Homo sapiens: one gene and its partner. The protein of the gene in region 2 interacts with the protein of the main gene of each other region in a biochemical or structural test. Each region holds a gene or a part of one and is shown on either strand. Other genes may lie near its edges.

The links.
Region 1: the proteins of SMAD4 (region 2) and SKI form a complex in vitro, tested with the Homo sapiens proteins (3 studies listed by BioGRID and IntAct, with this or other methods).

Annotation. Positions count from the first base shown.
Region 1 is NC_000001.11:2,301,304-2,308,330, reverse strand, and holds part of SKI (ski oncogene), read right to left. Parts: intron 5,354-7,027; coding exon 5,228-5,353; intron 5,047-5,227; coding exon 4,931-5,046; intron 4,492-4,930; coding exon 4,229-4,491; coding exon of another isoform or gene 4,223-4,228; intron 4,039-4,222; coding exon 3,746-4,038; intron 2,312-3,745; coding exon 2,081-2,311; intron 1,755-2,080; coding exon 1,566-1,754; 3' UTR 1-1,565. UniProt on the Homo sapiens protein: May play a role in terminal differentiation of skeletal muscle cells but not in the determination of cells to the myogenic lineage. Functions as a repressor of TGF-beta signaling.
Region 2 is NC_000018.10:51,033,210-51,040,236, reverse strand, and holds part of SMAD4 (mothers against decapentaplegic homolog 4), read right to left. Parts: intron 1-7,027. UniProt on the Homo sapiens protein: In muscle physiology, plays a central role in the balance between atrophy and hypertrophy. When recruited by MSTN, promotes atrophy response via phosphorylated SMAD2/4.

The sequences.
Region 1 (7,027 bases), on a different chromosome or scaffold from region 2:
CGCAGGCAATTCCGCCACCCAGATGCGAGGGCTCAGCAGTCTCTGGTCTTTGCTCGTCACTGCCCCGAGGTCGTCTGTACCTGGGCAAGTAACCTCCACCTTCTGTGAGCGCGTGCAGCTGCCGCGGGTGTTAGAACGGATTCAAGCAAAGAACTCCTGTAAGATCTTCTTATGTAAATAAATACCGTAACTGTAGGATAGGTAGCCGCCTCTTGTCTACTGGGAAATCATTTTTCAAGCTTGGGCATAAGAAACCTTATACAATTTGCATAAACAGGTGAGAGTAAACGAGATTATTTGGAATAAATGCAAGGAACTTATTCTGAGAGTGGCAGATTCAGTCGCTACTGAAGACAGATATCTTGGGGGTAAAAAGACACGAGTCAGGATTTGCTGTACAAGATGCTGGAAGGCACAGAACGACCCCCGAAGTTCAGTTTTTGCATTTTCGTTTTCTTGTGATTCCCTTGTTCAACCAAGCACCAGAGGGGGTTTCTAAGCACTCGAGCACTTCGGATTTGACTGCTCTATAAATCGGTAAAAACCTCAGTTCACTGGGGAATAGAAAGAGAAGGGAAGGTTGTGGACAAAGTGCAGTTCTAAATATACGTTTAAATGAACGAACAAAAAAAAAGAAAGAAAAATTGAAATAATGCTCTTTTGTTCCAATGCTGCAGCCTCAGTCCCAAAATGAAGGGAGCGACGTTTGCCGAACTGAAAAGGGTCGCCCGGTCAGGCGGCACGTGTGCCCGGAGGGGCTGAGGGCGTGACCGCCAGCCACGGTCACCACCCGACGCAGGTCAGTGCCTCGTGGTGGAGGAGCGTGGGCAGAATCACGGGGTGCAGAGGAGCCGAAGACCGTCCCCTCAGCTCCGGGGCAGCTCCTGTGCGGCTCTGCACTTCCTGGTACCCGTGGGGACAGCGCTGGCATCGACGGCGGCGTGGCGGGCGGGGTAGGCGGCAGTAAGGCGGGCAGTGTTCGAGCTCATCTCGCACGCGGCACTGTCCCTGCTCTCCCTGGCAGCAGCAGGAAGACCTGGGTCCTTGTCGCTGAAAAAATAGACTCTGAAGAAAAACCCCTGCTGTCCTCACGCAGCCGCGGGCAGATGAGCTGTGATGGCTTCCCCGGGTGGGGAGGGTGGGGCGGCCGCCACCCCCACTCCGTTGCGGGTCTTCAGATGGCGTCATGTGTTGGGGCTTTTAGAAGTTAGTCATTTAAAAATGTGTTGATTTTCTGAATTTCAAGTCTCCTTACTGGTTTTAAATAGCTTATAACAAAAGTGTAAATGTTAGAATGTTCCAGCAAGCAGAGGACCAGCAGGCCGCCGAGCTGGCCCCGTCTCCAGCTGTAGTTGGGGGACGCGGCTTACTCACTTGAACTTGGCCAGTAGAAAATTTTGCAGTGGGTTCCAAAACTACATGGTTACAAACACTCGCTTGGTAATAGGCACGGTAAGACGTTGTGCTGTGTGGGCTGCAGGGGCGGAGCCGGGCGGAGCTGCACCGCCCAGCCGCGCCCCCCTGCACCCGCGTTGTCGGCGGCGCTGCGGCGGCAGGCACGGAATCTACGGCTCCAGCTCCGCAGCGCCCTCGCTGCCCGCAGCCTCGGGGCGGGCCCGCGGCCACAGCTGTTCCTGCAGCTCCTTCACCACCTTCTCCAGGTGCTCCCGGGCCTCGCGCTCCCGCAGCAGGTCGGCCCGCAGCTGCTCCCGGTCCGCCTCCGCGTGCTGCAGCTTCACCTGCAGGTCTTCGATCTGAAAGGGAGCCGAGTGGTCAGCGGCGCCTGCTCGCTGCCCTGCCCCGGCCCGACGCTGCTTCCCCCACCCGAGGCTCCTGCGCCGCTCCCTGTCCCTCCCCAGTGCCGCGTGCCGGCCCCTCCTCCACCTGCTAGGACACAGGCTCACGAGACGCAGGGCCCAGCAACCACCCACCCTGTGCCCGTCGGGGGGGCACGCACGGAACGTGGTCCCGGGCCTGGCTTCTGCTCCAAGGCCTTTCCGGCTGGGCAGGACTGGCCACCGGGGCCCACGGCGGCTCCACGCCCACCGTGCTGCGTGCCTCAGTCTCCCCACCCGCATACCTGGGCCGAGTACTTGGCGCGCAGGCGGCCCGCCTCGCAGCCCTTGTCGCACACCCGGGCCTGCCGCGCCTGCTCCAGCTCCCGCTTCAGGCGCAGCCGTGACTCGTTGGCCTCTTTCATCTTCTTCTCGTTCTCGGCGCGGAGACGCTCGATCTCCTTCCGCAGGTTACGCTTGGCCTCCGTGGCCTCCCGCAGCTTCTCCTTCTTGGCCACGCGTAGGAACTCCAGCTCCTGGGGGCCGGAGGCGGCTCGGGGTCACTGCCCAGCCGGTCCCAGCACACCCCTCACCATGACCAGCAGTCCTCAGCCCACCCCGTGGGGTCATCTATCTGACAATGTGCCCTGGAGCCCCGCCCCCAGCGCGCCATCAGCCCAACCCGTGTGGTGCCCCGACCCCACAAAGGCTTTTCAGACCCCCATCCGGAGTTTCCGCCAGGCCTGTGGCAGCTGTGCTAAACCTGGGGGCCTGAGTCAGTCACTTGAGGCTGCGGCGGGGCCTCCCCCGGTATCTAGGGCCACGTTCCCCTTGGGGGCAGCAAGCCAAGTAGGCCCTGGCTCCCATCAATGTGAGGAGGGCAGCCTCAGACATCGCACCATCTGAGGGCCCCGGGTCTCCCCACGCAGCCAGATGGACACGTCCATCCGCCCGGCGCCTCCGCAAGCCCCCCCACTCTCCCCATTAAAATATCCGTGTGACTCACACCCCACGCTGCAAACACACCACATGAATATGTATGTGGGAAATCACACCTCCAACCAGAATCAAGGACAACAGTGGCGGGGGACGTGCTGGGGCGAGGGACTGGCACGCGCAGGAGGGCACGTCGGCAACCCTGCAGCTCTGAGGGCCGACGGGGTTGTGTTGTGCTAAAGCCCACGCCGCGGAAGCTGCCAGACGCCGCCGAGGTGTGAATTTAGCGAGGCCGGGGCCCGGTGAACAACGGGCCGCCTGCACACCTCTCTCCCCAGGCAGCTCTGCCTGTGAACCGCACTTCCCTCAGTCATGTCAGAAAGAAACCTAAACAACGTAAAAGGAGGCGCGAGACCGGAGCTGCAGCGTGAGAACCGTGAGGCAGAGCCCAGAGAAGCAGCGTGTGCAGGTGGGTGTGTGTGTGTCTGTGCGGGCCGAGCCCTCTCCTTCCTACTCGGGAGGCCTGGCGGGAGCCGCCTTCTGGAACACCAGGCATTAGTAAGCACGCCCCTCACGCCTGTGTTTTGCAGACGCCAGGTCTTGCTGGCGGAGCGCGTGAACACCCACTCCTGGAGCACACAGAGCAAGGAACTGTCTCCATGCAGCTGCTCCCAACTCTTTCTGCCACTAAAAATAGCCCGGCCTCCCTTATACCAGAGAAACATGGCTACTTCCTCAGTGGGGCCACCACGCAGGGTGTGTGATCCTGATGGGGAAAGCTGTGGTCAAGCCAAATGTAGTGGCCTCCTGGGATGTCCATCAGCCTGGGGACACTGAGGGGCTCACCATACCCAGGGCTGCAGCTTTTGGGAGACGGACCCCCAAGGTCCCAGGCAGGCCCACTGAGGTGGAGGCAGAGAGGAGCGCATGGGGCAGCCAGGAAGGGAGGAGGCACCACCTGTGCCCGTTCACCTGGTGCAGGCTGTGCTCACTGCCCGTGCCCTGGACCTCCCAGCACCACTCGCCCCGCTCACCTGGTGGAGGCTGCGCTTGGCCTGCAGGGCTGCGCTGAGCTTCTCCTCCTGCTTCACGCGCATCTTGACCACCTCATGCAGGAACTTCTCTTTGGCTTCCTTGGTGTCCAGGCCGCCCTCCAGTGCCTGCCGCAGGTGCTCCAGCTCCGCCTCCAGCCCACTGGGGGCGTCGGCAGGGGCCGCAGCATCAGGGACGGCCGAGGGCAGGGCACGCGCACCCGGGGAGCCCAGGTCCTTGGCGGAGCTGGATGAGGTAAAGGACGGGGAAGAGAGCGAGGACAAGGAGGAGGTGACTGAGGAGGAAGCAGAGACAGAAACAAAGTCATGGAAGTGCCCGGCAGCTCCACACCAGGGAGACGCGCCGCTCCCGGAGGAACCTGCGAAACATGGGGCCACCAACGCACCCCCGGCGACCAGCCCCCCTCAGCCAGTGCCACCCCCACAGCCCACAGGGAGGAGGCACAGAAAGCGACTCACACGTACATTCCTCCCTGCTTTCAACTTCCACCTCCGCCTCCGAGTCCTTGTCCTCCTCTGGGGCAGCCACGGGCGCCAGCGTCTCTGGGGCTCCTGGGGTGTCCACAGTCAGCTTCCGCTTCCGAGGCTGGGTGCAAGTGGCGAGAGGCTCGGGGGCCCGGGAGACGGCGGCGGCACACGGAGGGCTGCTCACAACCTTCTGCTGGGCCGGCGGTGCGAGGGCCACGTTGGGCGCCACGGCTGTCTCAAAGCTCTTGTAGGAGTAGAAGCTGGAGGGGCAGGCGGGTGTCGGGAAGGTGCCTCTGTCCCCAAGCACCACCCAGACACATCCTGGCGCACACCCCCTCTGAAGGTGTTAAACAGGAAAGACTTTCCCAGCTCCGAATCTTCAAGTCAAGCTTACAGTTCCCTAAGAACCCGTAAGCGTTTTCTGCTTGCTGGGTCTCTTGCGAAGGCCAGACACAGGCCAACACATCAAGAAGCTGCGCCCAGCAGACAGGGCTCCACCCACGACTCCACCCAGAACACAGGGAACGCTCTAGGTGTGCTCTCCCTGATGCCAGCCAAAGGAACCAACACCGAGACTGCCCTGACCAAAAGGCGGCAGGTCTGGGCACCCAGCCTGCAGAAACATGGGCGCGTCCGCATGCACAGCCCTCGTGGAGCCTCCCCCGTGATCAGAAACACCTGTGAATGGCGCCCACTCACCTGTCTCGGATGAGGGCCGGGAGGTGTGGGGAGAGCTCTTTCTCACTCGCTGACACTGCGGGGGACCAGGGTCGGAAAGCAGAGAGGCGCTGGCGAGGGTGAACACAGCCCAGGCTCTGTCGAGAAAGAGTTGTCTGTGTGAGTGACCAGGAGAAAAACAAGCCACTTCATGTCCCTGAGGCTGCGCCGGGTGCCAGCCCTCAGTAGCGGGCAGGTGGAGCTGCCAGCCGCTGGGTCTGCCCAAGGAGAAGGGCCCAGTACCCACCACCCCAAGGACCCCGACAGGCCCCACAGCACCTTATTGGAAGAGCCGGCCAAGGTCCGCAGCCAGCTGGACGGCTTGTCCTTTTCGGAAGGCGCGGGGGACTGGGAAGAGGTGTCATCTGTTTTGGGTCTTATGGAGGCCGGAGGCTCAGAGGAGACCTGCGATCAATGAAAGGTTTTGTTGGCACCTGTGGTTCCCAGGGCAGGGTCCCTCCACCAGCCCCGTGGCTGGCACATGGCAGTCAGAGCCCCATGCACTCCGGCCACAAACGACCCTGAGTGGCGCAGAAGGCAGATTCCAGGGCACCCCCCAGGAGACCAAGTTCACTTTGCATAAAGGCCCTTAGGCCACGCGCAACAGGCACGTGGAGGCTGTGCTGAGGGACAAGTCATCTCCGAGAGAACAGAGTGGACCTTGTCCTGCCATTCCGGGTGACCTCACCCACGGCTGCAGCAGGTTTGGGATGGAGCACCAAGACCCACTCTCCCCTTCCACAGCGGCTCAGCCTGGCCAGGAGTCCCTCGTCCTTCTCCTGCCAAACCCCTTTCCTAGAACCCGAGTGTGTCCTCAGAGGGTGCCCAGCGCTGGGCACTCAGCTCAACCAGCCACAGCACGGCGAGAGCCACTCACGACGGATGCGTCTGGGAAGGGCAGCTGCGGCACAGGGGTGGTCGCGGGGAGGGGACACCGTGTCCCTGTGGGCCACTGGCACAGGTGCATTAAAGAGTGGGCATTCTGGCTGCCCCCTCCCCATGGGAAGGAAACATTTTCAAAATGAAGGACACCATCCCCAAGGAGCCTGGCTCCTACAGGATGGCACCACACACACCTTTGCCTCGCTCCTTGCCAGCCCCGGTGCTGGAGGAAGCTTAGCGAAGGTGCCCAGACCCAGCCCACCCAGAACCAGGTCCCGCTGGTGGAGGAAGCTTAGCGAAGGTGCCTGGACCCAGCCCACTCAGAACCAGGTGTTGTGTGTCAGGTGCTGAGGCACATCCCCCAAGAGCCAGTGAGTGATGTGGGTTGTGTGCTGGGGGCCTGAGCCGGTACATCCAGCCTCAGGCAAACGTGAACTCCCACAGCCCTGCGGCTGGAAACCCCTGAGACGGTGCTGCCCGCAAGGCACAACTGAGACCCAAGGTCTCTTCCCAAGCAAAATCACAGGGCAGTCTCCGTAAAATGGGCCATTCCTCTACTGCCAAAGACCCCACAGGACAGCACAGAGTCTCCAGGGCAGCTGGCACCAGGTCTACACCACAGGCCAATGCAGAACAGGCCACACAGGGCAAGGGGCCCTTCACAGGGGTGAGGTCCCACTCACTCTGCCGAGGCCAACCTCAAGAGGAGGCAGCAAAGTCGGGCGGTGGGGGCTCCGCCCTTGCCCTCAGCCAGGAAGCCTTGGTGGACAGAGCACACTCAGGGCCGGGGGCTCTTCCCACCTCCAGGACTCTAGGAGAAGACGCTGCATCAGGAACCAGCCTCCTGGAGGCAGCAGGGACCCTGCTTCCCTAGGGGGAAGATGGGGCGCAGGGCAGGCTGTCCATCAAGGTGCTCCAATTATGGGGATGGAGGGCCCTGGGGGAAGATCTGGCCAAAGCCCGTGGCCTCCCCTGCAGCACGTGCACCCACCCTGCAGCCCTCAGGGAACAAGCAGGGTGGGGCCAGGGGAGGGGCAGGTGCCTGGCTCTGACCTGGGCCCAAGGGAGAAAGATAAGTGCTCGGGCGCACAGGGCCGGGGACGCAGGGCAGGCAGCCCCTGAAGGCTCACGGCTGTGGATGGTTTTTTTCAGAGACACTAAAATAGCTGTTCAGGAAAAAAGACACTGAAAATACCC
Region 2 (7,027 bases):
GCCAGGATGGTCTCGATCTCCTGACCTCATGATCTGCCCGCCTTGGCCTCCCAAAGTGCTGGATTACAGGTATGAGCCACCATGCCCGGCGCAAAAGTGCTTAAATTTAACTAGGGGAGGAGAAAAAAGCTGGGCCTGGTAATATATCAATGTTATTACTAGGAATAAACTCTAAACTTAGGTTTACCAACAGGAAAAAAAGGTGTTCACGGTTAGTGCAACTGTCTGCAGCACAAGCTAAAGACTAAATCCTAGACAGCAAGTTGAGGTTCTTCAAACTGAGGGCAGTTGGCGAACTTCCAAGAGCACATTTATACAGCAATAAAAGCAACAAAAAGTTTTTTTTTAACTTTTAAGATGAATGACAAAGGACAAATCGAGATGTATGCTTCTTGTTTACCTATGTGTCTTAAATGTCATTTTGGTATGCCACCTTCAGTTTAAATGATCTTATTTAAAAATTACCCTTTTTGGATTAATAAATTAAAGGCTGTTAAAAGAAGAAATAACAAAGTACTATAGGTGGACATCAGTTTTTGTGTACCAGCATGTATTTCTCCATTTGTAAAACAGCAGTCTGATTTTCCAAGGAGAATCTCCCCATCTGGCCAGGTGGGACAATTCCCAGACTAACCAGAGCCACCCCCTGGCCACAGTGTTGTTTCTGATGAAAAAGAACGCAAGGCAGGCAAGTGACATAGCTCTAGCACTTCCGATGGAACTACGGGGGGTGGGGGGGTGGGGGGGTGGGGGGGGGAAGGCCCTCTTCATGCTTCCTTGAAGCTGGGGATAGTTAGCCTGCAAACTACCTGAGAAACAGAAAGAAAGCAAAGTCAAGAGTCCTGGTGATGCTGCTTGAAACCCTGGATATAGCAATCTGAGGTCAGCTCTATCTCCAGACCAAGCCAATGAATTCCCCTTTTTACTTAAGTCTGACTCTTACATGTTCCCTGATAACTGAACAGAAACTGAATGACTAACGTCCTTAGAAATAACAGCAATATAGTACAAACCATAAAAACAATTCAATCAATCAGTAATTTAGTCGATAATGCATAGAAATAGTTACTTTAAAACAGCAGCTGTCAAACTCTCTGATCTCAGGATCCCTTTATTCATATTCTTTTTCTGAGACATAGTCTCAGTCTGTTGCCCAGGCTGGACTGCAGAGGCATGTTCTCAGCTCTCTGCAACCTCCGCCTCCCAGGTTCAAGTGATTCTCGTGCCTCAGCCTCCCAAGTAGCTGGGATTACAGACATGTACCACCATGCCCAGCTAATTTTTGTATGTTTAGTAGAGAAAGGGTTTCGTCATGTTGGCCAAGTTGGACCTTTATTTATACTCTTCATTATTAAAGACACCAAATAGCTTTTATGCGGGCTATATACATTGATATTTATCATATTATAAATAAATAAAACTACTAAAATTTTTGGTATTTGCTTTATTAATTCATTTAAAATAATAAACCCATTACGTTAATATAAACATCTTATGAAAAACAGAATTTTCTAAAACAAAGTCAGGAATCAGAGTAACACTGTTTTACATCTTCACAAATTTCTCTTAATGCCTAGCTTAATAGGAGACAGCTGGATTCCCATATCTGCTTCTGCATTCAATCTGCTATGATATGTTGTTTTGTTTAAAGTACATGAAGAAAACGTGTCTCACATGGACAGCTAATTGGAAGAGAGGAGTATTTTAACAGCCTTCTCAGAAAACAATGGATATTCATCTTTTATTCAACACCAAAACTCAAGTGGCAATTCTGAAAGGTTAGTTGCAATGTGGAATTCACTGTATCAGTGAACTTTTTGGCTCTGGTGTATATAAAAATCCATTTGTCTATGTTGTACTTTGAACGGATCGCCTACCCATGCACGATTTTGTAACATGAATTGGTCATTTGGGAAAATATTGGTTCAATGAGTTACACAGATCTTCCCAGTGTTGACACACTTCCTCATACTGCCCCCCCCCCCACAGTCTCGCTCTGTAGCCTAGGCCCGAGTGCAGTGGTGCGATCCTAGCTTAATCCAGCCTTGAACTCCCTGGCTGAAGCAATCTTCTCACCTCACCCTCCTGAGCAGCTAGAACTACATGCCACTACACCTAATTTTTATATGTTATTGTAGAAACAGGGTCTCGAACTCTTGGCCAAAAGCAATTCTCCCACCTCCGCCTCCCACAGTGCTAGAAATATGGGTGTGCATCATCGTGCCCAGCCCAACATATTTTTTTTAATCACATTCCTTAATATCACCACCCATCTCATCAGAAAAGTCTTTAAGTATTAAGAAACTGGCAAGTCATAGTGACAGGAGTTTCCCAAAAATCTGATTTTCACTTGAAACATCAGATTTTAGCACTGGCTATAAATGTTCTCCTCGAAGTGGCCAGCTCACTTTATTCATTTCCAAGGAATTACCTGCCAAATACTCAAATCTAAATAGCTATCTGAGCTTATCTGTCATCCTGTTAAATAAAAATAAAAATGGTGTCCCACTAAAAAGCAGCTAGTTCAGCTTGCAGCTCAATAACACAAGTGCTTTTCCTAGAAAAGAACACTGTACTTCAATGTGCAGAAATGCTTTATGCATACTTCCCATTTAATCACACTATTAAAAAGACATACTCCAAGGTAGAGATTTTTTTAAAATTAAACCTTTTTACTGCTGCAGCAAGGGGATTATTAAGTGAAACCGGCATTTTTTCAAATGCTTATGTGTGTTTGACTATAAAGAACACAATGAGGACTCATATGTTTGGTATAACTGCCTAGAGTCATTTTAAAGTGCCAGCAGTTTACCCACCACTGCTCCTTCACCACCCATACAAATGTCCTCACAGTGAAAGGGCAAATAACGTCTCAGTTTCATTATGAAAATAATTTTGATTTTGTGAACCCCTTAAATATAAGGATCCTAGGGATCTCCAGGAGTCTGTGGACCATACTTTGGGAACCACTGTTTTAAAAGATGGTGGAAACCAAACTGAATTTTAATAACTGATAACTGAAAAATACATTTTATAAAACTTTTTTTGTTTTTTTGAGACAGTCTCGCTCTGTCAGCTAGGCTGGAGTGCAGTGGCACAATCTCAGCTCACTGCAACCTCTGTCTCCCAGGCTCAAGCAATTCTCTTGCCTCAGCCTCCCAAGAAGCTGGGATTACAGGCATGTGAGTAGCTGGGATTACAGGCATGTGCCACCATGCCCAATGAATTTTTGTATTTTTAGTAGAGACGGGGTTTCACCATGTTGGTCAGGCTGGTCTCAAACTCCTGACCTCAGGTAATCCGCACCCCCCTTGGCCTCCCAAAGTGCTGAGATTACAGGCGTGAGTCACCGCACCCGGCCTCATTTCATAAAACTTTTAACTGAAGCAGAGTTTCAAGTCATCTAGCTTATTCCTTCAAAGGGGGATGTATCAAAATCCCCCGCAGGTTAGGCCAGCTCCACTAACTAGAATCAAGGGTGGGGCTGTACCTTTAAAAAACACTCTGGAAGTCTGAGGTACTGTTAGTTTTACAAAGCATTGATCTAGTCTACAATCTTTACTTTACAAATTAAGTATCATGAGTATATGCAACTGATTAAAAAGACTAATTATATAGAAGTTGTATCATTTTTCCTTACAATTAGCCAGCCCCTTCATTATTTCAGCATCTATACACATTCTTCCTTCAACTAGTTTTAGTAGGCATATTTATGATGTAAGACACACCTAATGTGTTTATGTACAATGATTCCTGGCTTAGCTTACCCCATTAAATATTATTTCCGGTCATCCTTTCACTAGATTATTCAATTTTTACAAGGACTGCCCATCTACTGATAACATATGCTCTAGAATTCACTAGTGAATATCACTGACAAATATCCTTAATTCATCTTATATTTAGAAATACATTTTGACTTGAAAAGACCTGAGTAGCATACATTCATCCATATTAACATACAGAAATAATACCTTACTATAAAAATATATATTCGGTAGCATTCCTAGTTTTAAATCATAAATAAGATTTGGCTAGCCTGGGCAACAAAGCAAGACCCCCGCCCCCCCATTTCTACAAAACAGTTTTAAAAAAATCAGCCAGGCGTGGTGGTGCCGGCCTGTAGTCCTAGCTACTCTGGAGGCTGAGGCAAGATCTCTTGAACCCAGAAGTTGAAGGTTATAGAGGGCTATGATGATGTTACTGCACTCCATCCTGGGCAACCTGTCTCTAAAAAATAGATAAATAAAGCAGTAAGGATAAGCATACCAAAATAAACAAAACCTTTAGAATCAAGAGGCACTTTTTAAAAATAACACAGATTCCCATGCCTCCTCCACTCCATTCCCATTCTGAAGCAGCATGTGTGTTGCAATCAGATGGGAAAAAATATTTTTATTTTTTTAAATAGCTCTTCCAGAGACAGAGATGAAACTACTCCATAGCCCAGCACTTGGGAACTACTTCAGGTGATGTAAATGGAGAGCTGAACATGCCCTAGATGATCTCTACAGAAGTACTAGCTAGCTGGCCTAGCTGAGCAAATGTCTCACAGTGTATTAATTAAGCCCTGACAGAAAAAGCCCAATGCAACCTGCCTCTCAGAAACCAGTTAAGTGACTAGTTAATTGGGGGCTTGAAAATGTAAGGTTTACCAAGTAGATTAACGCCCTAAGAAGACAATTTGCATTGGGAGTTATATTTATTTATTTATTTATTTATTTTAGAGATGAGGTCTCACTTTGTTGCCCAGGCTGGCCTTGAAATCCTGGGCTCAAGTGATCCTCTTGCCTTAGCCTCCTGAAGTGCTGAGATTATAGATGTGAGCCACCAGACCAAGCCCACAGGGAGTTCAGATGCTAACTTGGGGACTTAAAGTAATTAGTCTCCAAAAGGAGTACAAGTAAGCATTTGAGAATATACTTTAAAAGAAAATCAACTTCCTATTTAAAATAGTGATGATATACTAACTTCTCATCATGGGAAATACAGCTTCCTAAAACTTACTACCAGACAGTTCAAATAAACTGAAAGTGAAGAAAGAAACAGAGGAGAAAGGAATAGGTGACAGGAAGGGGGAGAGAAAAGAAAGAGACAGACACAGAAGCAAAGCAAATGTGGCAATACTTTCAAAAGACCCGTTAAGTTAGATGTGTGAGATGGCTACACTGTACATGTGTGTAACACTGTATTAAAGAATGTAAAGCTAACACAAGTGAAACAGTTCAAAAGAAAAAGTCAGAGGACCCTAATGACTCAATCACTGCGGAGGGCTAACCTGGCTGCACCCTAGACCAACCAAATCATAATTTCTGGGGCTAGAATTCAGGTATCAGTATTTTGTAAAGCTCCTCAAGGGATCTAAAAGTACAGCCAAGATTGAAAACTACTTGCCAGGCGTGGTGGCTCATGCCTTTAATCCCAGCACTTTGGGAGGTCGAGGTGGGACGATCACTTGAACCCAAGAGTTCAAGACCAGCCTGGGCAACAGAGAGAGACCCCCATCTCTACAAAAATTTTTCAAAAAATTAGACAGGTGTGATGGTGTGTGCCTGTAGTCCCAGCTACCGCAGCAGCTGAAGTGGGATTGCTTGAGCCTGGGTGGTAGAGGCTGCAGTGAGCTATGATTGCAGCACTGTACTCCAGGCTGGGGCACTGAGCAAGATGGAAAGAAAAAGGAAAAAAAGGCTGGGCGCGGTGGCTCATGCCTATAATCCCAGCACCTTGGGAGGCTGAGGCGGGTGGATCACCTGAGGTCAGGAGTTCAAGACTAGCCTTGCCCAAAATGGTGAAACCCCGTCCTCTACTAATAATACAAAAAAATTAGCTTGGCATGGTGGCGCACGCCTGTAATCTCAGCTACTCGGGAGGCTGAGGCAGGGGAATCGCTTGAACCCAGCAAGTGGAGGTTGCAGTGAGCCGAAATCGTACCATTGCACTCTAGCCTGGGTGACAAGAGCGAAACTCCGTCTCAGAAAAAAAAAAAGAAAAAGAAGAAAAAGAAGAAAAAGGGAGAAAGGGAGGGAGGGAGGGAGACAGGAGAGAAGAAAAGACCGTTGCCCTAAACATTGGGAGTAAAAAAGCAATAAAAAGATGAATTCAACACATTTACAAGTTTTCCAAACTGCAAAAAATTCTCATTTGGAATATAAATAATGAAATACAGTCTTTGGGCTGAACGGTCTTTACTGTTACCGCCAATTTTAAACTGATTAAAATGTTAACAGACCCTCTTTACAACTGGTCTTTGGTACTTATCTGATCTATAATATAATTTGCAGTAGCAACTCATCAAGGCTTAGATTATGAGAACCTTATAAATTGTAAGAATCCGACTACCTACCATCTTAGTTTTACATATGTAAGCACTACCCTAGTTTTCATTCACTCTCATAGTTAAAAACAAATGTTCCCGGATGCCAATTACACCAGGTAATAGTGTTAAGGTGACACAACCTAAAATACCTTGTTCCTGAGAAACTGGAATTCAGTCAAATTTCCCATTACCAAAATTACACATTTTAGAAAGAGAAAACAAAATCCAAAAATTCTAAATCTGACTTATGATCAAGCATATGCTTGATATATGCAAACAGCATCATTCTACAAGTAGCTCAAATGAATATATCTAGATATATTTGTGAACTGTTTGAATTTCTCATTTTAAAACAATTGAGACTTCATCAACTGTTGAACAAAAAGCCCAAAATGTGATAATTTTACAAAACTGTATTAAATGCTGTTATAGGACAGGCGCAGTGGCTCACGCCTGTAATCCCAGCACTTTGGGAGGCCAAGGCGGGCGGATCACCTGAGGTCAGTTGTTCAAGACCAGTCTGGCCAACATGGCGAAACCTCGTCTCTACTAAAAACACAAAAATTAGCCAAGCGTGGTGGCACATGCCTGTAATCCCAGCTACTCAGGAGGCTGACGCAGGAGAATCGCTTGAACCCGGAAGGCGGGGTTTGCAGTGAGTGGAGATCGCGCCTCTGCACTCCAGCCTGGACAACAGAGCGAGCCTCCATC